Linked DNA regions of Homo sapiens. The protein of the gene in region 4 purifies or fractionates together with the protein of the main gene of each other region. This does not show direct contact. Each region holds a gene or a part of one and is shown on either strand. Other genes may lie near its edges. The genes, in order: CMTR1, DCLK1, RAB40B and KIF16B.

What was found.
Region 1: the proteins of KIF16B (region 4) and CMTR1 purify together in Homo sapiens (affinity purification with mass spectrometry; one large-scale study listed by BioGRID and IntAct). This does not show direct contact.
Region 2: the proteins of KIF16B (region 4) and DCLK1 purify together in Homo sapiens (affinity purification with western blotting; one study listed by BioGRID). This does not show direct contact.
Region 3: the proteins of KIF16B (region 4) and RAB40B purify together in Homo sapiens (affinity purification with western blotting, with the first as the bait; one study listed by BioGRID). This does not show direct contact.

The regions. Positions count from the first base shown.
Region 1 is NC_000006.12:37,455,895-37,463,335, forward strand, and holds part of CMTR1 (cap-specific mRNA (nucleoside-2'-O-)-methyltransferase 1), read left to right. Parts: intron 1-2,717; coding exon 2,718-2,916; intron 2,917-3,671; coding exon 3,672-3,790; intron 3,791-5,654; coding exon 5,655-5,751; intron 5,752-6,075; coding exon 6,076-6,208; intron 6,209-6,934; coding exon 6,935-7,114; intron 7,115-7,441. UniProt on the Homo sapiens protein: S-adenosyl-L-methionine-dependent methyltransferase that mediates mRNA cap1 2'-O-ribose methylation to the 5'-cap structure of mRNAs.
Region 2 is NC_000013.11:36,105,770-36,113,210, forward strand, and holds part of DCLK1 (serine/threonine-protein kinase DCLK1), read right to left. Parts: intron 6,447-7,441; coding exon 6,100-6,446; intron 1-6,099.
Region 3 is NC_000017.11:82,662,482-82,669,922, reverse strand, and holds part of RAB40B (ras-related protein Rab-40B), read left to right. Parts: intron 1-1,615; exon of another isoform or gene 1,616-1,690; intron 1,691-1,722; exon of another isoform or gene 1,723-1,991; coding exon of another isoform or gene 1,992-2,082; intron 2,083-5,366; coding exon 5,367-5,427; intron 5,428-7,179; coding exon of another isoform or gene 7,180-7,441. UniProt on the Homo sapiens protein: RAB40B small GTPase acts as substrate-recognition components of the ECS(RAB40B) E3 ubiquitin ligase complex which mediates the ubiquitination of target proteins.
Region 4 is NC_000020.11:16,568,593-16,576,465, reverse strand, and holds the start of KIF16B (kinesin-like protein KIF16B), read left to right. Parts: upstream 1-3,017; 5' UTR 3,018-3,190; coding exon 3,191-3,237; intron 3,238-7,873. UniProt on the Homo sapiens protein: Plus end-directed microtubule-dependent motor protein involved in endosome transport and receptor recycling and degradation.

The DNA.
Region 1 (7,441 bases), on a different chromosome or scaffold from region 4:
TATAACTGAGCAAGCTCAAGCTTAATGACTTAAATTGTGTGCTTGTCCTTAACTGCACAGTCAGTAAGTAGCAGAGCTAAGAACGCCAGCTGTCCTTCCTGTGAAAAGACTTCCTGGCCATGACCTATAAGGGCCATACATCTTGAAATCACAGAACGAGGTCATATTCATGCCCCCTTTGCAGGGGTGAGGTGTTCGCATCGATCATTCCGCATCCTTCTCCCAGTCTTCCTTTGGACCAGTGGTTCACTTAGAGGGCACGGCCAGTGGCAAGGAACCTTGCTTTTCCCTCTTTGCAGTATGTGTAGGGCTAAAACTTGTGACCCCTGCCACATTACCACCATGCTGACTCGAAGATGCTACATAATGTTCTTGGCAAATACCATTAGGTCTTTTTTGTGTGCAAATGAATATAATCCAAAAAGATGAATAATCGATGGCTCAGGAACAAAGAATGCTGGGGCGGCTTAGTAAGGAAGTGGGGAAAGAACGATTAAGACCCAGCATGCCTGGAGTGGGCTTGTCACGGGATGATGACATTTATTTTTAGCTAAAGTCACTTTCTCCAGAGACTTTTTCACTATTTTGATAAAGCCAGATAGCTATCATCAGAAGAAAGGCCCACCTCACCTAGAAGTGATTGGGTTGTAAACATTAGTATGTCTATTTCTTTCTTGGGACTGTTTCCCCTAAAGCTTTCTGATCGTTATCTAGCAGCTGCAGAACTCTAGACCAGCACTCAGCCATGCCGAACCTGTAGAGAGGGAAGACTGAGGTCCCTAAGCCCCTTCTGGCTTGAGTGTTCATCATGGTCTGAGGCCAACTATAGTCTTTTGCAGTTACTCACTTGTAGAACTCAACCTTTTGTTGTTGTCACCAGTGCAAATGGTTCATCCTGTCTGCTGTGGAGGGTGGGTAGAATTTCACTGTCTAGGGCTCAGGTGTGGGTAAGAGCATACCTAGCATTTGTGTAAGAGAAGTATAAACATACAATATGGTCCAGTACTGGGTTCAGCATAAATGTGAGGTTAAGAGATAAAGCTAGGCTGGGCATGGTGACTTACACTTGTAATTCCAACACTGTGGGAGGCTGAAGTGGGAGGATTGCTTCAGTCCAGGAGTTTGAGGCCAGCCTGGGCAATACACCAAGATCCTGTCTCTAAAAAAAAAAAAAAATTTGTTGAGCGTGGTGGTGTGTGTCAGGGGTCCCAGCTACTCAGGAGGTTGAAGAAAGAGGATTGCCTGAGCTCAGGAGTTCAAGGTTTCAGTAAGCTATTATTGTACCACTGTACTCCAGCATGGGCTGAGTGAGACCTCGTTGCCAAAAAAAAAAAAAACAAAAAAACCTGGGGAGAGAGAGCGAAAGCTACTCAAGGGGCCACAAATGTAATTATGCCAAAATTCAAATGATGATTAGTCAGTCCTGAGTTGGCTGGGTGCTCCGAGCGTTGCCTGGAAGCTGCTGTTGCTGCACAACAGTATTTCCTTCCCTCTCTGTCTTGTCAGCTTCTGACTGTGCCCTGCCCCAACCCCACACCCAGCGCTGGGCAGGAGAAGAAAAAAGGGAGTGCAAAAAGGAGAGAGACCAAATGCAGTGTGGTGTCTTGGATTGGATCCCAAACAGAAAAAGAACATTAGTGAAAATCTAAATGAAGTCTAGAGTTTAGTTAATAGTAAGGTACAAATGTTGGTTTCTTAGTTTTGCCAAACATACCATGGTGTAAGGTGTTAACAAAATTGGAAACTGGGTGAGGGGTACTATCTTGGCAACTTTTCTGTAAATCAAAAATTATTCCAAAATAAAAAGTTATTTGGGATTTTTTAAAAGGTGGTTGGGAGAGCCAAGGAGGAAGGGGAGAAAGGAAGACAGAGGCTATGATGGGAAAAGGAAGGTTCCTGTGGCTGGGAGAGGGTGTTAGAGCCCCCCAGCCTTTGGTTGGACAGGAAGACCTGAGTCTAGTGGCTAGGCCAACTGGACCCTGATTTAGCTTTGTTGCAGACTGGCTGTGAACAGATTACTTTGTGACTTTGTATCTTGGTGCCTCTTTTTCCCTATCTGTATATGTGGGGCATATTCTGTTCAGTAGGACTCTTGAAAGGCAGGATATGGTGAGGAAAACACTCTGAGAGATAAAAAATGTAGTCAGATACCCATAAATGTTTTTTGTTGTTTTTGTTGAGACAGGGTCTCGGTCTGTCGCCCAGGCTCAAGTGCAGTGGCGCGATCTCAGCTCACTGCAACCTCTGCCTCCCGGGTTCAAGCAATTCTCATGCCTCAGCCTCCCGAGTAGCTGGGTTTACAGGTGTGCGCCACCACACCTGGCTAATTTTTTGTATTTTTAGTAGAGACAGGGTTTTACCACGTTGGCCAGGCTGGTCTCAAACCCCTGACCTCAGGCTATCTGCCTCTCTGGCCTCCCAAAGTGCTGGGATTACAGGCTTGAGCCACCGCGCCTGGCTCCATGAAGATGTTTTTATGAGGAGTCTGAGCTAGGCCTGGTGATGTGATAGGCATTGTGGGTATTTTGAGGGTGGGTGAGGCAACACTAAAGGGTGTTAATCACCAGAAGATACATTTCCTGGGTGCTGTAGCTCTGGTGGGAGCTCTGGATTGTACTTGCCGAAAGGCTTATTTTACTCTCCCTGCATTCTCCTTCCTGTTGCCCATTGAGCTGTCTTGTTTTCCTTCCTCTCCTGTCCTCCACTTGCCTTTGCAGAAGCCACTGGTGAAGGACCGGGAAGCTGAGCTTCTGTACTTTGCTGATGTCTGCGCAGGCCCAGGTGGCTTCTCAGAGTATGTGCTGTGGAGGAAGAAGTGGCATGCAAAGGGCTTTGGAATGACTTTGAAGGGCCCTAATGACTTCAAGCTGGAGGACTTCTACTCTGCTTCCAGTGAACTCTTCGAACCCTACTATGGTAGGGACATTGAGGAGGGTACTAGGAGGTATGAGGGACAGCCCCTCTATGGGGACTTCAGGTCAGAAGCAGTTGTTATCCACATGCCATATTTTCTTTCCTAGGTCTCTTACCCTGGGCTTCACAGTTCATGTCAGAATCTTGGTTCCCTCTGGACTATCCCTTTTTACCCTGGGCCTGCAGAATACAGGTCAAACACTCCCTCAGCAGATTCTCATCAAGGCCCTATTAATTCCTCCTTTCAGGAACACTCTGCTTTTGTGGTGGCAGGAGATAATGAAACTGCCTGATCTCTGGCTGAGAACTGGCAGGGTTTTTAACAAATATAAACCCAATGCCCATCTCTCGCCCTCTGTGCCAGGTGCAGAATGCACTGGGTTGCAGACAGCTCAGCAACCCACAGCAGTCCCTCTGTTCTATGTTGATTGTAATTTGACAGCAAATCCTAAGTCCTTTCTGAACAGTCCTTATTACAAAATTGATGCCTAAATGTAGGTGCCTTAAACACAACTTGGGTCTTAAAGAGAAAGTTCCACGAGTTGATGACTTTTGACTGGTCAACTCCTTTGGGACTGTGTTTCATTATAGCAGAGTACTGTTGTTCCTCCTGGTCCATCACTGTAAGGGAGCCTTGCAGGATGGGCCCTAGTTCTTGAGACACCTGATGCCCGTCTTCACTGACCCAGAGCACTCGTGTCCCAGCTCCTGACATGTATAGGGCAGATGAACTCACTATGACTCTTGTATTCTGACAGGTGAGGGTGGGATTGATGGAGATGGAGATATCACCCGCCCAGAGAACATCTCTGCTTTTCGGAATTTTGTCCTGGATAACACAGATCGCAAGGGTGTCCATTTTCTGATGGCTGATGGGGTAGGTTACCTTTTTTCCATAGACTGATGCATTAAGGATTTGTTATTTTAGAGGTTTGAGAATTGTTTGTTTTATCTGGTTCTTTAGCTGCTCCCAAAGATGGTATTTCACAGTTCAGATTGTAGAGAATGCATTTTTATTCTTTTTATACATTTTTTAAATGATAATTGTGTAGAGACTGATGTTGTGGATACCTTTGCCTGGAGCAGGGTGATCTTGGTGTTGCTCCTGGTGGAGGCTGTCTATACATGGTCACCTGTAAGCCTCTCATAGGCTGACAGATGGCCACCTAACCAAAGACGGCAGCACAGAGGAATCCACAGGAGGCTCTTGTCAGGGCTGGGTTAAAGTGAATGTTCAAGAGGCCTTGTCTATGGGCAGCTGCTTGAGGCACAGAGGGAAGCCCATTGCAGCTTTGTTCAGCAGAAGCTCTCACCCAGTAATCTGACAATGCAGGCATTCCTTTCTGGAGTGAGCCACCACTTACTCTAGAGGAAGGACAGACAATTTGGCAGCTGCTCCAGGATCATATAGCTAGAGTTGAGAAAAGCCTCTGGGACTCTTTGGGTGGCCTCTTAAGCAGTAGCTGTGTGGCTAGTGAAGGAAGGTGGGCAGGATGTCAGCATGATATCCAAAGATGCCTAGGCTCACCAAAGCACTGTGCACAGCAGGGAACAACAGATGACAGGCTTGGGGCTGGCTGTGAGGGAGGGGCTGCTCTGGCTGAGCAGATGTGGGAGTCTGATAGCGCTAATGAGGCAGCTGTTGCTGTGCGGCAGCTATAGAGTTGGAAGCTCAAGGGCTTTCTGCTTCAGCACTTCAGCAGTGTAAAGGGGTGACCTGGGCTTTTTTTTTTTTTAATTGACCCCATAATCAGGCATGCATTTTGAGAAGCATCTTTAAGTCTGGAAGACACTCCTAAACATTTCTTATCCTGAGTCCTTTAGCTATCACTTCTGTAGAACTGAGTCAGGGACACCTGGGGCGTGTTTAATAGAGGGCAGCGTCCTTTTTTCTTTATTTTATTGTAAAAAACACAAATTTGATCATCTTAATCATTTTTAAGTGTTAACAGTAGTGTTAAGTCTATTCACACTGTTGTGCAACAGATTTTCAGAAGTTTTCATTTTGCAAAACAGAAACTGTACCCATTTAACAACACTGTGCCACCTGATGTCCCCTGGCCTCCTTTACTTTTATGTAAGCCTGACTCTGTCTCCTGCTGGGATCTCACAAGGAGGGAGACCACTCTAGAAATAGCATCACACATTCTTTCAGTAAATACCCTGGCCAGAGAGTCTGCCAGCTGGATACAAGAGGCACCGTGGTCTTAGGACAGGAAAGGGGGTATTGTAAGTAAAACCTGAGTCAACAGAGAGAGATTACTGTGACTAGGAAAGTTAACTTTTCTCCTTCACCAGAGTGGGAAGCCGAAGCAGAGTGTTCTCACTGTACTCACTCCCTGGTCTTGTTAGGACTCACCAGAGCATTCTGTTTCCTATGTTGTGGTTGACCTCTGACTAGCCAATATTTTGCCTCTGTTCTGCCTTACTCTTCTCTGGATTCCCATGAGTTAAAACACATTCTAAACCATCTCCTTGGAAAAGCAGGCTTGGTTCCATCCCCTGAGAATGACAGAGCAGGAAAGTGGAGCTGGTCCAGTAGTAGGCCTGGGTCCTGTGCTTACTCCATCTAACAAGCCCAGTGACCTTCTAAAATAACTCAACACTGAGCTGCTTCTTCATCAATCAGATGGTGATCAGTGAAAACACTTCAAGAACTCTCGATGAAGATGAGGTAGTGATGTTATTCTTAGTCCTTCTCTTTTCTCTTTCCCACCCCATTCCTTGTGCTCTCATTTCAGGGTTTCTCGGTGGAGGGGCAGGAGAACCTGCAGGAGATCCTCAGCAAGCAGCTGCTTCTGTGTCAGTTCCTCATGGCGCTGTCCATTGTCCGGACAGGTGACACTTCCTCAGCTGTCTCCTCACCCCAGGACCCACTTAGAGGCCCTATTGGACAAGAACATGTACAAGGGGTTGGTGGGGAAGTTAAAAAAATCTGCTTATATTAGAGGACAGGTAGCTAAATGAGTAATTTAGGGAAGAAAGGGCTGTGGAATCCTCAAAGTCCCCTCCAAAGATGGTTCTCCCCCTTAAATTGTCTCTGAGTTTTAACAGACCCAGGTGCTGGTTTCCTTGACTTTGTCATATTTACTCCCAAGACTACTTCACCCATCTCTTGGAATAGACCCATTGGCTGCTTTTGGTGTTTTCTCTCTAATCTAGGAGGCCACTTCATCTGTAAAACCTTTGACCTGTTCACACCGTTTAGTGTGGGGCTTGTCTACCTGCTGTACTGCTGCTTTGAACGAGTTTGTCTCTTCAAGCCTATTACCAGCCGTCCTGCCAACTCAGAGAGGTGAAGCCTTTCTCTCTATATTAGCCAGATTAATTGGCTAAATGTCAGAACAGCAAATCATGGTGCATCTCTCTGGCATGACCTCTTAAGCTACGTTTAAAACCTTGACTTTAAAGAAGTGATGAGAGCCAACAGGATTCAGGATTCCTGGATCTTTTGGTCTTGTGATATGCCAGTTCAGCCTCTGCCTCCTTCTTCCAAGCCTTATGCTCCATGCTTATGTGAGGGATTCTCAGCTTGGCCAAGGAGAAAGTGACCAATAGTAGGGACACTTCAGGGGTCTTGGGCTGGGAAGGGGCAAGGAGCCGCTATCCAGAGGCACTACTGGGGTCCCAGTGTGACACTGCCCACACACAAGGTGAGAGAAAATGCAACCAATCAGAATTGCCCGGTGGCTTTGTTACAAACACATATTTCTGGGCCTTCTCCTGGGAGAGTTTGATTCATTAGGTCTATAATTTAACAGACTCCCCAGGTGATTGTGACACAGCCCGTCTGTCACAGGGAAGTTAGGAACTACTGCGATAGAGAGTAGAAATAGAGCTCAACAGAGAAGGATTTGAGGGGAACTTTAGCACCACAAAGGGTCTGTGTTGTTCTTTGTGCGTAGGCCTAAGGTTGAACAGGGAAGCCATTAAGCTTTGTGATTCCACAAGGGGTTGGGGGAAAAGGAATGTATGGGGAGGAAGCCCTTGCTCGGTGGAGTGACAGAGTATCTTCTGCCAGGTATGTGGTGTGCAAGGGCCTGAAGGTGGGCATAGATGATGTTCGGGATTACCTCTTCGCAGTGAATATTAAACTCAATCAGCTGCGGAACACGGATTCCGACGTCAACTTGGTGGTCCCCCTGGAGGTGATCAAGGGAGACCATGAATTTACTGACTACATGATACGGTCCAATGAGAGGTAAGCCAACGGGCTGGTTTTTGCTGGTAACACTGAGGTCCTAAGGAAGACCAGAGAGTGAAAGACTGAATGGTTGGCTCTTGGTATCACTTTGTCAACCCTGACAAATTGGCAACTGGGTTTGGTCTGCTGGTTTCAGGGCTCCCTGGGACTTTGGTTAGTTACCCTCAGGGACCCCCATCCTGCTGCCATGCCCTATCCCAAGGGTGGCAGGTAGGTGCCTGGCTAGTATAGGCCTGCCTGCAGGAGCCTGTGTATAACAGTGAAAGCTGACAGAGCAGCCTGTGTCCCTGGAGGCAGGAGTAATTTCCCTTTAATTGCTGCTGT
Region 2 (7,441 bases), on a different chromosome or scaffold from region 4:
TCCAGACTGAAATCTCAGTCCAGGCTCAGCTGAATTTTTTTGTTTGTTTGTTGCAGGGATAACTGACTGACCAGCTGACTTTAAAGTCCAAGTTCTTTCCATCATCCCAACATGCTCCTGCCAGACAGAAAAGGCTCACAGGCCGGGTCAGGGCTCCAGCTGTCATAGAAGCAAGAGAACTCACCACCAGAAGGCAATCACAAAGCCAGTAGACTTGTAAACGTCCCCCAAATGCTCTCAGCACACTATGGAAGGGCTTTAGAAAACCTATCTTCAGTACAGCAGTGGAACACTAAGAGAACTTAGAATTCATTTTACAGCGAGCTAGAATGCAATTTACAGAAAACTAACTTTTGCTAAAATGAATCTAAGCCTTAAAATATACATCACTGCAGGTACCCATAATTGATCACATCCTCAGAGGAGCTCAAAGTGAAAAAAAAAAGGACTTAAATCTTCCCAATTTGGAGGCACTAACATCTACATAAGGACAGGTATAGCTCATGAGTCCTAAATATTGACCAAGGATATGTGACCTAAAATAGTACATTCTATTCTGAACACTTTAATTCTGTAAGTGAAGTGTCATTACGATTCTTAAACTTCTTTTTCTTTGAAATCATCTATTTCCATCAATTCATAGCTCTAATAAATCATGAGGATGGTTTAACATGTGCTCTGAGCTTTTGTAGAGAATTTTAATTTGACATTTTAAAGTGTAAGCTAAATTACTTGTATCAACTGTTTTTTTACTCCAATCGCAAACAAAACTAAAAAGTATTACATTCCCTTTTGCTACATAGGTAGTGTAGCAAATCAATAGTACACATTCTTTATACCAAGAATGAAGGGTTTTAATATGCTTGCAGAAGTTAATTAGAACTGTCACAGAAAAGTTCTACTAATAAAAAAGGAAAAATACCACTGCTGCTAATAGCTACAGAAAACCTCCTTTCCCATTCCAAATAAATCCTATCAGATTCTAAATTTCTTACATTTTGTCTGGAAACCTCTAGTTTCCACATTTTCTATGCTTATCAACTCCTATAGCCAAGGTCAGATGCAATAATAATTTGTACCACTTTTTTAACTTGTAAGAGGAAGACATATCTTAAGCACTCTAAACCCAAGAGTCGACCAAATTATTTTTACTTCAGATTAGAATTAGATATTAAAGGCCAAAAAGAAGAAAATAAAGACCATTTTGTGATATCTGATTAATAGATTCCTATTAATCATCATTACCATTTCCTGTAATCAAGTAAACTCCTATATTAAACACCTAAAATAAATGGCGGCAATTATTGACTCATTTACAAGCATCTTTTGAGCTTTATAACAGGCAATGAGGATTCATGATCAAAAGATACAGAGAAGATGTAATGATGGATTAATTTATCAACAGCTACTGGGATGTCCTCAAAATGGCAGTTATGATGCTTTCTCATGGCTTACCATCGAAATCAGTTTATGGCTACCCATACTTCAGCTGAGTAATTCCTAATGTTTTCCATATTGGGAAAACAATAAATTGTTTGCTCACTCTAGCATGCTAGCAGTGGTAGATTTTTTTTTTTTTTTTTTTTTTTTTTGAGACGGGGTCTCACTCTGTCGCCCAGGCTGGAGTGCAGTGGCGCGATCTCGACTCACTAGCAGTGGTAGATTTTATAAAGTACATGGCCTATGTGAAATGTCTATAAGATAAAAATATAACATCTCTGGGTTTTTTTCTCTTCACTAAAGCATGCTGCAATGTTGTACAGATCTTTGATGTTGAAAAGTAGATAAGATAGGGATGTGCATTTATTTTCTACTTAAAGAGCAATCCAGTTTGTCATTGCTGTATTTCAGTGGGAAGGGGATCATTGGGAAGTGCCCTATCTATGTTCTTTATAGTATAAATCACCTACTTAGGCACTAGCTGTTCTATGTTTCTAAGGACGGATTCAAGAACCACAGATTTAGCAGCTCAAGAAAGCCAGATTTGCTTTTCCATAAAAGGAGTCAGGAGATATGCAAGGGTATCTTTGTAGCAAATCTGGTAACTTTTAGTCTTATTTTAAGCACTTAAAAAATAGTTATACTCCAAATGGCCTCTGGGAGTAACTGCTTGGCAGGTTAAGTGAATAACCCACAGCAAAGTTCCAACATCCAGAGCTTGGACTTGGGCAAGAGGAAGAGACTCTCAGACTCTAAGATCCTGCAGATCCTCCCCTTGGACATGGGTTCAGGGGACATGATTTTAACTGTTAGCTAGAAAATGTCCCTTTTTCTTCTTTGGAGGTCTTTAACCAAGGCCCAGATTTAAAAAAAAAAAAAATGCATCACTGAAATTAAGGCATGGTAAGTGCTTCCTTGAACTGCCAGCCATGCCAGCAAAAGGACTGATGACCTGGTGAGCAGTCACCCTGAAAGTTGCAAGGAAGAGGAGGAAGGTCGGGGCAACCATTTGCTGAAGCTTCAGTGCCCCTGAATAAAGAATGGAGTTGAAATCATTAGAAAGGGTTTGCTCACACATAGGCTGCTTATGAACCACAACGGTCATCTTGGCCAATTGCAGCTTCCTGCAAAATCTTTTCTAGATTGTGCAGCATTTCCAAAACGTTTATTTCCTTATCTCAGTCTAAAAACATCAAAAAAAGTACTGTTCAATGAACTCTTTGCTTAGGGCTAACACAAACCCGAGAGGCAACTGAGCAAGGAGTGGTGGTAGAAACAAGTGAGAACAGCATGTGGTCTGTGCCCTCCGGTGTCCGTCTCCTCTGGGTAAGATATTAAACAGCAGGCTCCGGCTTTCATGGTTCCATTGTCCAAAATCCCAGCGTCAACAGTTTTCATGCCATGGATACATCTGTAGGCTGCCCCAAGGCAATCTACAAAACCATCTTCCTCTCTACGCATTTACTCAAAGCACTCAAGCAATTCATTTTTTAAACAATTCTATTTCCTCAACCCAAAAACATGAAATTCTTTACTGGGCACTGGAATTCCCATATTGTTTATGGAGTTGATGTGAGGGTTCAGTTAAACTATTTTTTAAAAAGGTGGGACAAGTAATCTTAGGGTGGCATCTTGTTGGCAGCATATGGACCCCGATGCCACCACAGGCAGGCCAAGATGGTAGCAGTGCAGGTGCCACCCCACTATGGCCAAGCGTTATTCCACAGGACAGCGTGGAGGAAACTGATTTATTCTCAGAGGCTTATCAAGCCTCAGTCTCTGCCAGGGTTGTCAAAAATTCTACTCTAACAAACTGCTTATGGGACAGATTTCTCTTTTGAGCCAAAAAGATTCTAAAGACTCCTGGGGTCCATGAGGAAGCATCTTTGTTCTCACTGGGAACCCAACGAATAAGTCTTTATGTTCTTTCCACTTTATCATCCAATTCCTCTGCAGCTTTTCACTGATCCTGCTATGAAGAGAACATGCCAACACTAGGGGAAATGCCACAGCAGCAAACTGAACGCTTGACAAAACAACAGTTGAGTACAACAGTCAGCAGAATGACTGCAGGGAAAAAAAGGACAGAGCAGAAATGTTTCAGATGATATTCTTTGGACAAATTACTCCCTTGACAATTCTTTCTCAATACATTTACATCAGTTTGGTGCCTTAACATAATCTAAAGTGGTACAGTGGTTACCAGCACAAGCTCTGGAGCAAGACCAGTTTAAATCGTAGCTGTGTGGTCTTGTGCATGTTTTTAACGAGTTCTGTGCCTTAGTGTTCTAATCTGTTAAATGGGGATAATAAGCAAGTTGTTATGAGGATTAAGCATGCTAATACATGCAAAGCACTTTGAACAATGCTCAATAAAGCTATCATCATTATAGTTCAAAATTGCTATTGCATGTATCATCATAGTTGACCCACAGCACTCTATAAAACACAGGTAATCATTTTATCTGTGTTTCACTGATGAGGATAATGAAGCTCAGTTAAGTGTTTTGCTAAAAACATAAGGAATCTACGGCTGAGCCAAGACTTGAATCCTGGTTTTTTGACATTAAACCTCGGATTCCGTCCCATGACTTTGGATTATTTACATGTAAACCACAGTAAACTAGCCATTATCAAATATTAATTCTAGACAAATTCAGTAAGGAAGAAAACAACTGAGAACATCATACCTATTGTAGGGATTTATTCCTGAAATAAACAAAATTAAATAATCAGCTGATGGCAAATTTTAGCTAAAGTCATTAAAGCCGATTTTTAGATTCAGAGTAGCATTTTGGAACTCCCAAAATTCTGAAGTGCAGCAGGGAGAGGGAACATTTATCCATATGTATTCTTTGCTCTAATGAGACACTTTATAAAAATATTTATTTGAATAGGTAAATATTTATGAAAATAGATGAACTCCCATCTTGAGAAAATTCAATATATGAAAATTCAGAACTACAAGATGTTTGAATAACTCATTAGAAATGGAGCCAGTGAAGGGCTTACAAAATGTGTAAAGGTGAAGTTTGCCATCTTATTGCTACTATAATTCACAAGCCAGCATGAACTTTCTGGTCATTGATAGATTTACGACATTTAGGCTACAGACTCTTAAATATAGAAGACTAAGTCTCATTCATTAGAGAATCTCATCCATTAGAATCCTTATCCGCATATTACTTAGGGCAAGGGTTATAAGCCAAGCAAAAGATGGTAAATACAAATGAACAACTGGCACATATTCCTTCTTTCCTAATGAATTTTATAATTTAGAGCATCTGAATGGATCCCTAAGGGAAGTATTCTTTCATGACTAATACTCTTTCTAGGATTAGCATCTATTTCTAATTCAGAAAGTTTGAATGCGCTAGCCTTTAAGAACTTGGAGGAGTCTTCTATTTAATAAGATCAATCTTTTAATTCATGGATCATTTTAATTTTAATATTTACTATACATACAAATCATTCAAATTATCCCTCAAAAAAAATTTTTTAAAAAAGCATTTTGATAGCACCACATTAAAAACTAAACTTCCAGCAAAGATAGTGTGCTCAAAAGTATAATCTGGTAAACTCTGAATGACTAGCAAATCATGCTGTACATATAATCAATTTTTTTTTTTTTTTTTTTTTGAGACGGAATCTTGTTCTGTCACCCAGGCTGGAGTGCAGTGGTGCGATCTCGGCTCACTGCAAGCTCCGCCTCCCGGGTTCACGCCATTCTCCTGCCTCAGCCCCCTGAGTAGCTGGGACTACAGGCGCCCACCACCACACCCAGGTAATTTTTTTTTTTTATTTTGAGTAGAGACGGGGTTTCACCCTGTTAGCCAGGATGGTCTCGATCTCCTGACCTCGTGATCCGCCTGCCTCGGCCTCCCAAAGTGCTGGGATTACAGGCGTGAGCCACCGTGCCCGGCCCTAATCAATGTTTTTTAATTCAACTCACCATCAAGGTTCTGTCAAACCTGTACAAAAATAGTCCACCCAAGACAATAAAAGGTGATGCTTCCTTTGGGTTCATCTGACCAACTCACATTAAAATGACCACCCATCCAAGTCAACTGATGTTCATTCTGTAGCTGAAAAACCTCCCTTTCATTTTAACACTGAAAAATACAAGATGCGTACTATTCTAGAAATATGCCTTTAAAGCTATCCAGATGGAAATATGTCATTTCTTAGATACATATTTTAAAATCTATAAAATGTAAGTAAATCTCACTAGCGAACACTACAAAGACTTAAAATCATAAAATATTTAGGTCAAAGAAATAAGTTAGAATTTTCCCTACTGGTCAGAGTTTACTTTCACACCTCAGTCATTCATTCTTCAGGCTATAAGATCTATGAGAAAACTGAAAACAGATGACAGAAAAGAATCATTATGTTAAGCAAATAATAAATGAACAAGTAGAAATCACTGAGTAATTATTTAATCTTCAAAGATATGCATTTTTTTCTTACTTTATTCCTATGAATAATCCTGCTCAACTCAAACTTCTGACTGTTCTAGGGCCAGCAAGTACATATTTGTTGATCAAGTGACCCAGGCCCTTTAACAACTTGAGCAAAATGTATGCTTTAGCCACGTACACCCTCCGACTCCCTGGTTCTTGCCTTAAAGTCAAAGTCACATCACAATATGTCTCTTACCTGTTTCCCATCCAACGTGTACAGGCGTTTCACCACTCCCGAGTCCAGCTTGATGGCATCGGTGATATCGGTGAGGACCTGCTCAAAGGAATGAGCCGTTTTCTTGTTCAGCAGAATCCTGACAGCTTTCCGTGGCTTCACGCCACTTCTGATGATGGTGACCAGCTTGGGCCGAATGAAATCCTTATTCTCTCGCACCTCTGAAGGGCTTCCTTTGGCAGTGGCCAGTGAAGACACTGCCCGAGAAGCCGAGGTGGTCTTGACGTTCACCGACCAGTTGGGGTTCACATTCTTGGTGTACTCCAGTTTCTTGAAGGGCTCTATGGAGCCACATACATAACTCTCTCCTAAGGAAGAGAGAAATATATTTAAATTTATACTAAAATATGCCCATTTCTTTTTTCCTACTTATCCTCTCTTTTGCCTTTTCTGCTTAGGGGCAAGAGCTAGCCCTGACTTTTCAAACAATGGAAGTGTGATTAATAATTAGGGAAAAAGAAAGATTTCTGATTGCTAATCTGGCACTGTCAGCAACAGATCCACATCCTGGAAAAACAAAACAAAACATTATTCCTCCATTTCCTCATCTTAAGGTCGGTGATAGAAATGCTGATCTACTTGAAAAGACCTTAGAGAAGTGTGAAAGTGAATTTAAAATAGAAAATATTCTTTGGGAATTAGAGATACTTAAATCTGCAGAAAATTTCAAAATTGGAAGTACCTCCATTTGCTACCTGAGATAATTTAAACACTAAGAATGAATCAGAATACAGCATCTTAAAATAGTCATATAATTTACGAATTTGATGAGAGTTGATGCTAAAGATTTTGTAAAGCCCAGTAAAGTTCCAAAAGCAAGCAAATAATCACCCTTCCTTTCTCTCATCTATATAGTGCCAATCACAGTGATCCACACATACTATAAGGTCAATTCATACTTGTTCATAAGTAAGAGGTTTTAGAAGTGTTCAACATACAAACTACAGCTTCAAAAATGGGCTCTAAAATAAATATAAGTAAATGTTTATTAAAAGTGACTCCTTAGCAGGAAATCTTTTAATGAAAATAATCAGACTATTAAGTAGATGTAGATCACACACACAAAAAAGAAAAACATGAACCAAGAGACAACAAATTGTAAAATGACGAATTCTAAATACATATTTCATAAAGTTAGGTCAAAGCCTTTTGAAATTAAAGATTTTGTAATGGCTTTTTTTCTGTGTTAATAAGTTTTTGTAACTAGGAATAGGTAAAAATGCTGAAAGACCTTCATAATTGTAGGTAAAATGACCGAGGCCTAATCTAACACAGCCCATTGACTTTTATCTAAGTCCTTGTA
Region 3 (7,441 bases), on a different chromosome or scaffold from region 4:
TTGCTATTATGGAGCAAATATGTATGTTCTTTTTTAATTTATTGTTTGTGTTTCACGCTCAGTGTGTTCATTGCTGACGGCTGCAGGACTTGGCACATGATGGTGCCTTCCCGAGAGCTTAGTAGGGTTTTAAAGGACTGTGAAGAGATTTTTGGTCGTCGCTCAAAGCGTAATTTCACAGGGCCTGAAGCTCCCGCGCTGGGGCTAGTAGAACTATCTAGTTGGAAGGCTCCAGAAAAGTGTTTTTGTCTCCTTTTACATTTTTTTTTAGAGACAGAGTCTCACTCTGTCACCCAGGCTGGAGTGCAGTGGCACGATCATAGTTGACTGCAGTCTCCAACTCCCGGGTTCAAGAGATCCTTCCACCTCAGCCTCCTGAGAAGCTGGGACGACAGGTGTGCACCACCATGATTGGCCAATTTTTTTATTTTTTATTTTTATTTTTTTGAGACAGAGTTTCGCTCTTGTTGCCCAGGCTGGAGTGAAATGGTGTGATCTCGGCTCACCACAACCTCCACCTCCCAGGTTCAAGCAATTCTCCTGCCTCAGCCTCCTGAGTAGCTGGGATTACAGGCACCCGCCACCACGCCCGGCTAATTTCGTATTTTTAGCAGAGACAAGGTTTCTCCATGTTGGTCAGGCTGCTCTCGAACTCCTGACCTCAGGTGATCCACCCCGCTCGGCCTCCCAAAGTGCTGGGATTACAGGCGTGAGCCACCGCGCCCAGGCCCTAATTTTTAAATTTTTTGTAGAGATGAGGTCTCACCATGTTGCCCAGGCTGGTTTCGAATTCCTGGGCTCAAGCGATCCTCTCACCTTAACCTCCCAAAGAACTGGGATTACAGGCGTGAGCCACCGTGCCTGGCTATTTTCCTTTCTGTAAAAGGACTGTTTCCTTGATACTCACTTGGTCACCTGGGAAAACCACAGCAGTGTGGTTTTGGTCTGACAGCAATGGAGGCTACGCCGCGTGCCCCACTGTGGTGAGGTCAAGCTCCTGGTGCTAAGATGCTGATGGTAGCAGTGGCCCATCTAGAGTGGCTGCTGCCAAGATGCCGGCTGCAGCGGAGGCATGGCTGGGCCTCTCGATCCACGGATCAGGCAGCAGCTCCGCCTTCCCTGCGTGCCGCGGCCCGCTGCCCTGGGGCAGCTCTAGACGCGGGCGTCTCTGTGCTCTTGGAGGCCTGGGAAGGCCACCCCTGCCCCCTGCAGGCTTAGAAGTGCCTGCTCCAAATGCCTGGCCTCTCCTCACTCCCCACGCCCGCTCCAGTCGTGGAGCACAGTTGGGGCTGAGCCCAGGTGCTGCTGCAGACCATCCGGGTGGGTCCACACTTGGGGCAGCACGGACACACCAGCCCTTGCCACCTCAGCCCCCTCGGGACTGGGCGCTGTTGAACATGGGAGGGAAGCTGAGGGAGGGCTGAGGGTGGCTCAGTGCTGGCCTGCAGGCGCCCCTTGGCATGAACAAGCTGGGTGCCATGAACAGCAGTGGGAGGCAGACAGACTTCTGGGTGGAAGGGGGCAGGTCCCTGGTGAAGCCACACCTTGAAGCTTCAAGGGGGCCTGGGGCCCGGGCTGCCAGTCCTGCAGACTGGAAGGAGGACTCGGTGCTTTTGTCAGAGGGGGGATGTGCATGCTGGTTGGGGTGGGCTGCCTGTGGACCAATCAGCGTGCACTTCCCCACCCTGAAGACCACAAAAACCCCAGACTCAGAGCAACGCGGACGTCGGGATGACCAGCTGCGGAGAGCTACCCTGTCTGCTGAGAGCTGAACACTTGTCAGGACGACCTGCCTGCAGAGAGAAGCCACCCACTGTGGGTCTCCCCTGAGCTGTTCTAACACTCAGTAAAGCTCCTCCTCGTCTCGCTCACCCTCCACTTGTCTGGGTACCTCATTCTTCCTGGATGCAGGACAATAATTCAGCAGCCACAGAGGTTTCCAGCCGGAAGAGCAACATCCCAAAGGCCCCATCAGTGCCCCGTCAGCGCCCATGCCAAGAAGAGAGAGACAGACGGTGCACTCAGCGTGCCTGCTGGGCTCGGTGGCAAACGTTTGGCCAGCTCAGGAAAGCCTCGTACTGGGTGGGTCAGGGGACTGCTTGGCCGCTCTGTCTGAGCCTCATCACGGGGCAGGTGGCGTCTGCAAAGCGGGTGCTTCGGGCGTTCTCAGTGCTGCTGTATCTTTTGTCCTCTGAATCACTCTCCTCTGACGGGGGGAGTTTGCTCTGGTGTTGCTTGGTCTAATCTACCTGGTGGCGTGATGGGCAGTCTCTGTGGACAGAGTGTGGAGTTTAGCAGGAGACAGAGGAGGATGCGGGAAGCCTGGACTCCATGTCTCTGGGGCTCTGGTGGCACCACAGAAAGAGCCTCTGGAGTCCAGGAAGGGGGCAGGGCCCGGAGGAGGAAGCAGAGGGCAGGGGACAGGCTGGACACAGCAGCTGTGGGAGGGAGGGGTGCTCGGGATCTCATGGAAGGCGCTGCACAGGTGTGCTCAGATCAGGCAGGTGTGCCATGCACGTGCTCATGGCTGCATCAGTGGAAAGTGGAGGACAGAGGCCCAGAGCTGCTGCAACGCCCAGGCCTGCCTGAAGATGTGGGCGACCAGCTGTCCAAGCCAAGTGGGAGGCCACCGGTGGCACCGCCACTGCACACCTCGCTCTGCCCGACAGGAGACCAGGAACTCGGCACACTGCCTCCTGGGATGCAGGGGGGCTTGTGGCCAAGTCCAAGGGTTCTAGACCCTTCGAGGGGGCAGAAGCTGCTTGAGAACCGTGGCCTCCGCAGCCTCGCATTTTTAGAGGAGCCTGTTTCTGGGCACTCACTGGCTACATCGTGGGCTTCTCTGGAAGGAGAGCTGCAGAGGCCGTGTGCTCCACGACGGTCTCCAGGGTGAGGTCTGGTGCGAGCCTCGGCGCTGCTTCTCCCCTCGGCCTCTCAGCGGCGCGCTTCCCTTTAGAATTCTGATTCCCTATTCAGCCATACTTGTCAAAGCACTCAACATCCGATCACAGCCGAGAGTGAGGCCAGGGCTTGTCTCTTGTAGGTTTAGTGCTTTGAGAGATACTGTCAAGTAAATCCTATACATGAAATAAATCAAGCAAATCCCACAAAGGCTGGTCATGTCTTGTTACTAAGCAGTTTGGGTTCCTGTGATTGTACGTGTCATTGTACCTGGTTTTAGGAAGGCAGTGCTCCTACCCGGCATTCTCCAGCCCCTTAACTCAAACCCTCTCTTTCCATGTTCTCAATGACAGACCTGGTGCTCATCCGGAAGCGCTAGAAGTGAACACAGGAGATGTTTCCTAAAGAAGCAGAACACTGGTGTCTGGGGGGTGATGGGGGCGGGGAAACATATTTTTCCCTTTAAAAATATTTATTGGCCGGGAGCAGCAGCTCATGCCTGTAATCCCAGCACTTTGGGAGGCCGAGACAAGTGGATCACCTGAAGTCAGGAGTTCAAGACCAGCCTGACTGATATGATGAAACCCCATCTCTACTAAAAATACAAAAATTAGCTGGACGTGGCGGTGTATGCCTGTAATTCCAGCTACTCAGGAGGCTGAGGCAGGAGAATCACTTGAACTCAGGAGGCCGAGGTTGCAGTGAGCCAAGATTGCACCACTGCACTCCAGCCTGGGCAACAAGAGCGAAATTCCATCTCAAAAAAAAAAAATGTATTGTGGCCAGGCATGGTGGTTCATGCCTGTAATCCCAGCACTTTGGGAGGCTGAAGTGGGAGGATCACTTGAGTCCAGGAGGTTGACCAGCCTGGGCAACACAGCAATGCCCTGTCAATTAGCCAGGTGCGGTGGCAGGTGTGGTGGCAGGTGCGGTGGCAGGTGTGGTGGCAGGTGCGGTGGCAGGTGCGGTGGCAGGTGTGGTGGCAGGTGCAGTGGTGTGCCTATGAGCCCAGGAGGTAGAGGCTGCAGTCAGCTGTGATTGTGCTACTGTACTAGAGCCTGGGCGAGGGGGAGACCCTGTCTCAAAAAAGATTTTTTTTAAGTGTAGTTTTTTTTTTTTTTTTTTTTTTTTGTTGTTGTTCTTGTTGTTTGTTTTGATACAGAGTCTCCCTCTGTCGCCCAGGCTGGAGCACAGTGGCACAATCTCAGTTCACTGCAACCTCCGCCTCCCGGGTTCAAGCAATTCTCCTGCCTCAGCCTCCCTACTAGCTAGGATTCCAGGAGCCCGCCACCACACCCGGCTAATTTTTGAATTTTTAGTAGAGATGGGGTTTCATCATATTGGTCAGGCTGGTCTTGAATTCCTGACCTCAAGTGATCCACCCGCCTCAGCCTCCCAAAGTGCTGGGATGACAGGCGTCAGCCACCGCATCCAGCCCTTAATTGTAGCTTTTTATTTTAGAAGAAGTGTTCCAGCATGGTGGCTTATGCCTGTAATGCCAGCACTTTGGGAGGCTGAGCCGGGCAGATTGTGTGAACTTAGGCGTTTGAGACCAGCCTGGGAAACATAGCGAAACCCCGTCTCTACAAAAAAATACAAAAATTATCTGGCCCTAGTGGCACATGCCCGTAGTCCCGGCTACTCAGGGGACTGAGGTGGGAGGATCACTTGAGCCTGGGCTGTGGAGGCTGCAGTGAGCTGTGATCACGCCACTGCACTCCAGCCAGGGCGACAGAGAGAAACTCTGTCTCAAAAAAAAAAAAGAAGAAGAAAGGCATTCTCGGGTTTTTTTTTTGTTTGTTTGTTTTTAACTTGAAAAAATAGAAATGTGGAAAGAAGGTTCCAGCCTACCTGTAATCTGCACCCCAGAGGTGGCTGGGACGGGTGTGCAGTCCCGTGTCCCTGCACATGCGTGGTTCACATGCACATGTACACAGCTGAGAGCGGGCATCCCACGCAGCGTCACGTCTGTCTTTACTGTACTTTCCTAGTGTGATACTGGGGGACGCAGTCTCAGTGTCTGCAGAGCCGCTGCCTTAGCCCCGTTCCCTTGGAAACAGAGCTGAGTCGGAGCTCTCAGGCCTGCAGGCTTGGGGAGGAGGTGGGGAGGGAAGGACCAGCCCAGACGGGGGCACACCCAGCGGCCACAGCCCCGCGGCAAACCCACCGGCCTCCAGGTCACATGTAGGCCCTGCAGTGCCTGTCGGGGAGCCCCCTGGGCCAGGGTGATGCGAGCCTGACCCCCACAGAGGCCAAGGCGGCTGAGGACAGGAGGGGCCCGGGTGCGGGAGGGCGCAGGCAGGGCCCCTGTGAGCTTGGGCAGACACAGGGAGGGGGTCCCATCCGCCTGCCTTGTAAACCTGGAAGTTGCACTGATGAGAAACCCTTTTCTTCCCTGAACGTGAGACTTCCAGCGTCCTGTTAGCTGCAGCCTCAGGCCTAAGCCGTCTCTAACCCTTCCGCAGGCATCGACTACAAGACGACCACCATCCTGCTGGACGGGCGGCGGGTGAAGCTGCAGCTCTGGTGAGTCTGGAGGAGGTGCGAGCGTCCCGCACCCCCAGGGAGTAACCCCCCTGGCTGGCATAGCACCCCCTGTCAGCACAGTGCCCCGGGGAGCACCCATCCCCCACCACCATCGGCACAGCGCCCCCGGGAACACCCTCCCACCACCACCGTCGGCACAGCACCCCGGGGAGCACCACCAGCCCCACCACCATCAGCACAGCACCCCGGGGAGCACCCTCCCCCCACCACCATCGGCCCAGCACCCCAGGGAGCAAGCTCCCCCCACCACCATCTGCCCAGCACCCCAGGGAGCACCCTTCCCCCACCACCGTCGGCACAGCGCCCCCGGGGAACACCCTCCCACCACCACCATCGGCACAGCACCCCAGGGAGCACCCTCCCCCCACCAACATCGGCACAGCACCCCGGGGAGCACCCTCCCCCCACCACCGTCGGCACAGCACCCCCGGGAACACCCTTCCCCCACCACCGTTGGCACAGCGCCCCCGGGAACACCCTCCCACCACCACCGTCGGCACAGCGCCCCGGGGAGCACCCCCAGCCCCAGCTGCACCAGGGCTTCTCTGAAGGAGGTGGTGGTCCGGTTGTCTGGGCCCCCGTCATCCAGAGTAGGGGACCCCAGAACGGACATAGCGCTGTGGCTGGGAATCGGCTTTTGGGATCAGAACCTGTGGCCTGGTGTCTGTGGGAAGATGCCAAGAGGGGACCGATGCAGCGTGGTTGAGGCAGCCCGGGGCTCCTGGGTCCCCCACGCCTGGCTCAGTGATGCCACTGAGCACCCGGCAGGGAGCTCGGAGCGTCCTGGTGCCAGCGGGGCTGTGGTCGGGCCTGCGGGTGGAGGACCCAGACGTGGGGAGGTGAGGACTTGCTGGCCAGCCTGGGGCTGCTGGCTCTGCTCTCTCAGCTGTGAGAACCCCAGCTCCTCACCTTGGGGCAAGCCCGGGGCACCTCTCCCTCCCCCAGCACCCCCACCTTGGGGCCAGCTTGGAACACCTCTCCCTCCACCCGCTCTTGGCTTGGGATGGGGGGAGCTCCTGCGGTTCCAGCTCTGGGGCGGTGGGGATGGGGGGCTCCTGCGGTGCCTCATCCTGGGGCTGCCTCCCTCTTGGGCATCCCTCCTGCACTGCTGCCACTCCTGGGTGACCCTCGCCTGAGCCTCCTGGCCCTTCCTGCCTGCTGGGCCACCCCCGAGCCACGTGTGCCTCCAGCAGCTGGGACCCCCTTCTCTTACCTGTCCCCTTCCTACGCCTGCCCCGTCTAGTAGTGGCCAGTCCTGGGGAGCCTGTCTCCACAGTGTCCCCAAGCGCCCCGACCCTTCCTGCTGCACAGCTTCAGGCCTCCCGCCCAGTCTGCTCTCAGGTCCCCACTCCCCCGGGGCCATGCCCTCGCTGGGCTGGCGTTGGGGTTGCCGTCAGCCCCTGTCCTGCTCCCCACCCTCCGCCAGCTGGGCCTTTGCTGCCTCCTCCTGGCCCTGAGCCCTGCAGGTCCAGGACCTTGTTCTCAAGTCTCTCCCTCCCTCCCCGAGACCACTCCTTCCTGAGGGGCCAAGGCCACCCAAAGGCCGCACTCGGCCCCACGCCTGCCCCTGAGCTCAGTGCCTTCCTAAAGATCTGCTTGCATCAGGGCTGGCGCGTGCCCTCTCCCAGCTCCACCCCGGGTCTGGCTGCTCACCTTAGCGAACGCCTCCCTGACCCCAGCTGCCCAGTGGGCCGAACAGTCACCCTCACACTTTTCTCCCTCTCACCTCAGGAGTGAGATCCCAGGGGGCTTCTGCCAAGCTCAGAATCCCCCCAGGCCCCAGCAGGACCCTGAGGCTGCTCTCCTGTGGTGCCGGTGCCAGCTCTGTCCACACTGTCGTCTGAGCAAGGTCACACTCCCACCGTGGACCCCGGAGTGTGGACCCCAGAGTGTGGTCCTTCCTGGTGCCCACAACTGGGTCTTCTGCCTGCCCCCACCTGCCCTCACCTCCCTCCCCACACCCACTGGGGCTGGGGTTGGGCTCTGCTCTGCT
Region 4 (7,873 bases):
AGTACCCACCCCTCCTTTGCGGGGCCCTCCCACATTGCCTGGGCGTGACCATGTGACTGCCTTTGGTCAATGGAAGTCCAGCAAAGGCTTGTGCATAGTGCGGTGCTCTCCTGGCGAGGTGTCTCGCCGCCGCAAGAAATCTGGAACCTGGTCTAAACTTTTTGAGGATGAAAAAGCAAAATGCACCAACTTTTCCTCACCCCAGGTGAGCCTAGAGCCCAGCCACAAAGCCCGGGTGACACCAGCAACCCAAAGAATTGAGAGAAATAATAACCGGTTTTTGTTTTAAGCCTCCACATTTTTGGCCATTATTTTTATGCATCAGTACATAACTGATTTGGATCCCTGAATTCTTACTGACCTTTTGGGCCCTGGATTTACTGCTTTTTTTTTTTTTTGAGATTGGGTCTCACTCTGTCACTCAGGTTGGAGTACAGTGGTGCGATCTTGGCTCACTGCAACCTCCTCCTTCCATGCTCAAGCGATTGTCCCACCTGAGCCTCCTGAGTAGCTGGGACTACAAGCACACGCCACCATGCGTGGCTTTTATTTTTGTTTGTTTTATTTTGTCGTAGAGACAGGGTTTTACCGTGTTGCCCAGGCTGGTCTCAAACTCCTGAGTTCTGGCAATCCATCCTCCTCGGCCTCCCAAAGTGCTGGGATTACAGGCATTAGCCACCGTGCCCGGCCTAGAGCTTCTGTAACTGTTTTTCACTATCAGTTATTTTAAGCTCTCACAGTTTGCGTAGAGGTCATCTATCCCCTGGCTCCTTGCAGGGAGGGTGGCAGCCGACAGCATCTTCACTCCCCGAACGTGCTGGAAATGCCATGTCTCAGGCTTCCCCTCTGACTTGCCCATTAGAAGCTGCAGTTTCACAAGACCGCCAGGTGATTCCTTTAAACATTCAAGTTTGCAAAACACTTTAAAGCAGGCACACTAAAGTCTGAGATGAGCAAACCCCTTATCTTATAATAATCTTCCCTTTCAGAAACTTCCTTCACGCCCCAATAGAAATATTTTCTGCTAAGAAAGTGCCCGTTCCGTATCGTCTGTGATGATCAAGCCTTACTGCTTCCTATTGAAAAGCTCCAGGCATGCTGTTTGTTGTCTAAAGCGTCTGCCGGGCTGCGATGGTCCGTTTTGTGTCAGACAGCAAAGTCGTGGATGGAAAGGGGGCTTATAAACACGTGTAGGTTGTTGGAATTACATTAACGAATGAATGAGCAAAACCTTCTAAACCACCGACCAATGAAACCCCGATACAGAAAATCGCTGTCATGAGTAAGTTAGCACTCCTGAAGAGTTTGAATACTGAACTGGCCAGAGTCTGCGCGCCGACGCCCCCCAGGTGGCCGGAGTGACCCGGAGCAGGCGTGGCTGTCTCTCAGACCCGCGCGTTGGGCCCGAACAGTTTGTCCCCACGCAGCTCCCATATAAGGCGGGCCCCTCCCCTGCCCCAGCCAGCTAGGTCGCCGCGCTGGCTCCCTGGCGGCTTCTCAAACCAACCCGCCGCTACTGCGCATGCTTGGCAAGCTCGCCCGCTCCTTAATATCCTGCTCCGGCTGTTCCTGCCACCCGTTGGTCAAATTCGCACCCAGCTCTGCTCCAGACAGAGGGAAAACCCAGTGATTTCCGGGCTCTAGAAACAAAGGGAGGCTATGATTCCCTGCTGGCCCTAGGGGTCCAGGGAAGGTTATGGAAAGATAATTCTTTGTGTAAGCGGGTTGCGTACTTGCAGACATCATCCCACTTGATGCATTCACCACTCTATGCCGTTGTTCCTGATTTGCAGATGAGACAAGAAGCCTCAGAGGCGCCCAGTAATTCAGAATTACAGGCTGACAAGGCTAGTGTTGGAGCTAGGACTTAAAAACAGGAGTTCCGCCTCCATTCCTTGCGTCTCCCATTATAGCTTGGCTTCCTGGAATGGCTGCTCCTGTGGCTCGCAGGTGGGCTTCTGGGTGTGCGCAAACGATTTCATGCATGCTCGATTCACTGAATGAATGAATGCATTTACCTTCTACACAGGAAGGGAGGTGGAGCTCACTTCTACCAGAGGCCCTAAGCCTTAAGATACCAGTTGTCGGCCTGGCGCGGTGGCTCACGCCTGTAATCCCAGCATTCTGGGAGGCCAAGGCGGGCGGATCATTTGAGGTCAGGAGTTCGAGACCAACCTGGCCAACATGGTGAAACCCCGTCTCTACTAAAAATACAAAAATCAGCCGGGCGTGGTGGCACGCCCAGCTATTCGGGAGGCTGAGGCAGGAGAATCTCTTGAACCCGGGAGGCGGACGTTGCAGTGAGCCGAGATCGCAGCATTACACTCCAGCCTGGGTGACCGAGCGAGACCCTGTCTCAAAAAAAAAAAAAAAAAAAAAAAAATACCAGTTGTGTTCGCCTTTAACTCCCTTATGATTAAAACTAAAAATTACTAAAGTGTACAAAAGTGCAAAACAAGTCTAAATAAGGTTTGATTCTAGCCAATATAATGACATTCCCGCACACATTTAAAACATCCAACACCCTATTAATTTTCGTTTATCGGTATCCCGAGTTAAGGGGTCCAAAACATACGGTCGGACCTCCTTAGGGTAGCAGAGAAGGCCCTAGCGGAGTTTGCCACCAACAAGCTGTGATCATCTCTGCGCCTCAGTTTGTTCGTGTGTAAAATGGATACGTTAACTCATGTTTGGCTGGGTGAAGCCAGGTTCTTGTTAAGGGCTGAAAAACTGGCTTTGGTCACCTGACCCCAGGACTGTGATCCTTGCCGCTGGCTTTAAATTGCTGCGATCCTCTTCTCTCCAGTTGTTCAGGCCATGAGGGTGGGTTCTAGTTTTCCTGAAACCATCCGCTCCGGGTCGCCCCCATAACCTCTGCGCCAAGGTCCACAACGTGGCCTTTCCAGACTTGCAGATCCCGGAGGCTGCTTCCAGGCCCCGCGGCCCCGCCCCTCTGCACCGCCCGGCCGCCGCCAAACCGTGGCGCATGGATCACGCGGGCCGGAGCCGTTCTGGGCATGCTCAGTGGCCTGGCAGGTGGGGCTGCCGCGGAACTCCAGGTCCGGCCGGGAGCAGAGGGGCGGGGGCGAGAGGGAAGTGGGCGGGAGCCGCGATCTGAGTAGCCAGCGTCGCCGGCGACCGCGGAGTTCTGGGCTAGTGGGACCCCGCGCGGGCTGGTTCGGGATGAGCGATGGCATCGGTCAAGGTGGCCGTGAGGGTCCGGCCCATGAATCGCAGGTGAGTGGGGCCGCCCGCGCCCCGCCCCCTCGTCGCGCCCCCACCCAGAGGAAGCCTGTTTCCAGCTCCCCCAAAGCCAGCCTGGACTTAAAAGTGTCACCGGCTGGTCCCTGGCCCACCGGGCCCAGGCTGTGGCCTCTGGGGGCCTGGAGGACTTCGTGCACTGCTGTCCCGTTCACATTGCCCTGGAGAGGACCCTGGTGGTAAAGGAGAAGATTCTATTAACTCTCTCCATCGTATTAACTTGAGATGTTCTTGTTCCCCCTTTAAAAAAGCATCAAGGGAACGTTACCATGAAGATGTAAAATAGTTGGGGGGAAGGTGAGAGTGCTGAGGGGGGGCACCACGAACTGTCAGGTGAACCCCTCATTTCTACCAACTCAGAAGTTCTCTTAACAATTAACCATGCTACTTTTTAATCTTTCAGTTAGAGATGATTTTGATTCCCTGAATGTCTAATCGATAACTTAGCAGTTCCTAACTTCATGTTAGAGAGTGGATGGGAAAACTTTGACAAAGTCCTGACTCCTAGAAAAAAGTCAGGGACGCTTTACACGTGTTTGAAATACTCTGATATTAAGAGAGAGGAAGAGTGTTACACACAAAATTTAATCTTGTTATATATTTCTACGAAGTAATGCTTTTTCAGAATCCTTCTCTTCATTCACTGAAAAATAGCCTGTGCTCCCTTTTCAATGACCTCTTTTTAATCCGTTTAGAAAGTTTCTTTGGAAAAGTTACTTTTTAAATTGGTTTGACTTCAAAGAATGAGGTAGAAATGGGATGTGTCCTCCAAGGTGACAGGCAAGGTTCACACAGAGCCATTTGATTTTATTGACTTCTCTACCAAGTTGGTGGATATTTGACTTACCATAGGGCCTTTTTGCTTTTGTCATATCAACTTGTGGAGGTTAATGTTTGGTAGTTCTGATGCCTGATTGGGGCAGCCGAAGGCCATAAAATCAAAAGATTTCCAGAACCTTATTTGACTCATCTAAATCTGTTTCTTCTCTTGGCAAGTAGGGAATCATTATTTTGGTTTGTAATCATTAAAACCCAGTGTTTTCAGAATCTGCTTTTTGTGACTTTTGAGTTATTTCTAAAGCTGTTTAGAGTAAGAGTTTGACTTTTTTGCTCTAAGGGAATATTTTTGTTTCTGTGTACATTCCATCATAGAAGATAAACTTTAGAACGATTTTTCTTTATTATGGATTTTCATGTGTATAGAAGTTCTTTTTCTTTTTTGGAAAAAGGTGAACACATGCTAGAAAATTGTATTGTGTAACTTTAGAAAGTATTTGTTAGGCTGGGCGCGGTGGCTCATGCCTGGGAGCCACTTTGGGAGGCCGAGGCGGGCGGATCACAAGGTCAAGAGATGGAGACCATCCTGGCTAACACGGTGAAACCCCTTCTCTACTAAAACTACAAAAAATTAGCCGGGCGTGGTGGTGGACGCCTGTAGTCCCAGCTACTCGTGAGGTTGAGGCAGGAGAATGGTGTGAACCCAGGAGGCAGAGCTGGCAGTGAGCCGACACCGTGCCTCTGCACTCCAGCATCAGTGACAGAGCGAGACTCCCTCTCAAAAAAAAAAAAAAAAGTATTTGTTAAGCACCTACCAAACACATAGCATTCCTCAGGGTGCTGTCTGGGATACAAGGGGAATGAGACCTGGTGAGCCATGGTGAGAGAGGGATTATGTACTGGCATGAATCTTGTGAAGTATTGGGCCTGCTGGGACAGGAACTGTGAGTTCAGTGCCTTGCCAGTGTAGGCCTGGAGCCCAGGTACATGGAGGGATGGCAGGAAATAAGTCCAGAGGCCATGGGCTTTGGGGAGGCAGATTCGCGTGATGTTATTTATATTCTCAGTAGAGAACTCTGGTGGTGTCAAGATTGAGGTAAGAGGCAGGTGATTAGCAGTTTGAGCCAGAGATGAAATTGGAAGGCAGGATAGTTACAGGAAGACCACTCACTGGCAGAATTGGCAGGATTTGGCAGCTCACTGGATGGGAAGAAGGGGGAAGAATGCGAGTGTAGAGTCATTAACTGAGGTTTGATGCTGAAGGAGGTGAACAGGTTTGAGGAAGGTGGACAATGAAGTTGGTATGTTCTCTCTTGGATGTGGAGAGTTACATGAGATGTATTAAGTGTCAAGTACAAGCACAGAGCAAGTGTTTCACGCATGTTGACCTTGTTCATTATCTGAAGTGTGGGAAGGACATCCATCCCTCTGCTAGAGATGTTCAGCAGAAAGCTGAAAATGTGGGTTTAGGTCTCAGGTGATTTGAGGATCGACATTTGGAAATCTTTTGCACATAAACCACAATTTAAGGATGTTACGTGAGAAGAAAAGGGAGCCAGGGATTGGACATTGGGATATGCCCCTCTTTAGGATTTCAGGGAGAAGATTGGCTTGCAGTCCGTAAAGGAGAACCAGCACAGCAAATGGTCATGGCAGGAAAGGGAGAAGAGCATCCTGAAGGAGGTGGTGGGGGTTAGTGTCAAATATTGCCAGGATGATGAGAATAAGATGGTGTCCTTGGTCTTGAAGACAAGGCTAGTTGATAACCTTCCCAACAGTACTTTTAAGGAGAGTCAATGATTCAGAAGTTGGCAGTGAGTAGAAAGAGATATATAAATTGGCAACTGAATATACTTGACCTAATTTATAAGGAAAGACATGCATACTATAATAGTGATAAAATGCCATTTTTTTACCAGTGAGATTGATAAATATTAACTGAGCACCAATTGCTGGTACAGGAGTGATGAAACAGACGCCTCTGCATTGATCACGGAAGCATAAGGGATCAAAACATCTGAAACTTTCATATTGGGAAATTTGACAGTAGCTGTCAAGATTAGAAATCTGTATACTTAAGCAGAAAATGCTTCCCTTAAAAAATTGGAAATCTATAAACTTTTTGATTTGACCATTTCATTTCTACTTTTTCTAATTTCTAATTTTTATTATATGGATTATATTGCTGCCTACAAAGATATATGTGTAAAGATGATGATTTTTGCATCATCATTGATAACAAAAAATCATAAGTGACCTTAATATACAAAATTGGGAAATTTGTTAAGTTATAGCGTAAATCATTTGGTGGATTATTATGCAAGTCTTAAAAAGAGGGTGTTGATCTTAAAAGAGTTCCAAGGTAGAGGATTGAGAAAAGCAAGATATCCACAGTGGAGTAAAGTTGTGTGTTTGTGTGTGCTAACAAATGTACACACACACACACACACACACACAGATTCATCTATATGTAATGGTTTGTAAGAAACCTAACACTGATACCTCTAAAGAGGAGGACTGATGATGAATCCATTAGGCAAAGATGAAAGGCTTTTTTTTTACTGTTTGTTTTTACTTTCCTCATGCGTAGTTTTATAATTAATACTTAGAATTAATTATTAACCCAGCAGTGCTTATTTAGGTAATTTTAAAAAGTCACCTACAAAATTCATTGGCACTGGAGAAGTTTCAGTTGGTTGTGAGGAGGATTGAAGGAAGTTGTTAATGTTTTTAATGTTTATTTTTAGAGTAGTGGAGCCTCAGGCAAAGGGAAAGCAACCTACAGAAAAACAAGTCCCAGAGTTATTGGAAAGTAAGGACTGCTGGTGGTGGAGTATTGAGTTTGACTGAGTTTCTAAACTAGGGGCCTTTGCAGTAATCAGTCAGCCTTGTAAGGAATATGAGTGCTTGATTCAGGCCAAGATGTGATGAGTTTATTTTTATTGCCTTATGGCTTTCAATTATGTGGCAGTAATACTCATTTCAAATGCGGAAGTGATTCTGTTACGTAGGCAAAATGGTAGCCACCTTTATTGAGACTTGACTCTGTGCCAGACTCTCTGGTCCTAGCTCCAGGTACAAAATCCAGTTTAATCTTTGCAGCCATCTTGGCAGGTAGAGACATTATTGTTATGCCATTTTACAGATTGGGAGACAGAGTTTCTTAGTGTGTTTGGACTGCTCTAACAAAATACTGTAAACTGGGTGGCTTATAAACAACAAGCATTTACTTCTCGTAGTTCTGAAGCTTGGGATATCCAAGATCAAGGTGCCAGCAGATAGGCTGTCTGGCTGTCTTCTGAGAGCCAGGTCCTCATACATGGTAGGTTCTTGCTGTGTACTCACGTGGCAGGAGCAAACAGACTCCCTTGGGCCTGTTTTATAAGGGTACTAATCCCATTCACAAGGACCTCATGACCTAATCACCTCCCAAAGGCCCTACCTCTTAATACTATCTCAGTGAGGGGTTAGGTTTCAATATTTGAATTTTAGGGGGAGACAAACATTCAGATCATAGCACATAGTTAACTTGCTCAAAGTCAAAGTCAGTTTCTTAAGACAGTCACAGCTATGCCTTTTTTTTTTTTTTTTTTTTTTTTTTTTTTTTTGAGACAGGGTCTTACCCTGTTGTCTAGGCTAGAGTGCAGTGGCGCAGAGTCGTGGCTCACTGAAGCCTCAACCTCCTGGTGGGCTCAGGTGATCTCCCTGCCTCAGGCTCCTGAGTAGCTGGGACTATTGGTGCACACCACCACACTTGGCTAATTTTTAAAATTATTTGTAGAGACGGGGTCTCCCTGTGTCGCCCAGGCTGGTCTCAAACTCCTGGGCTCAAGTG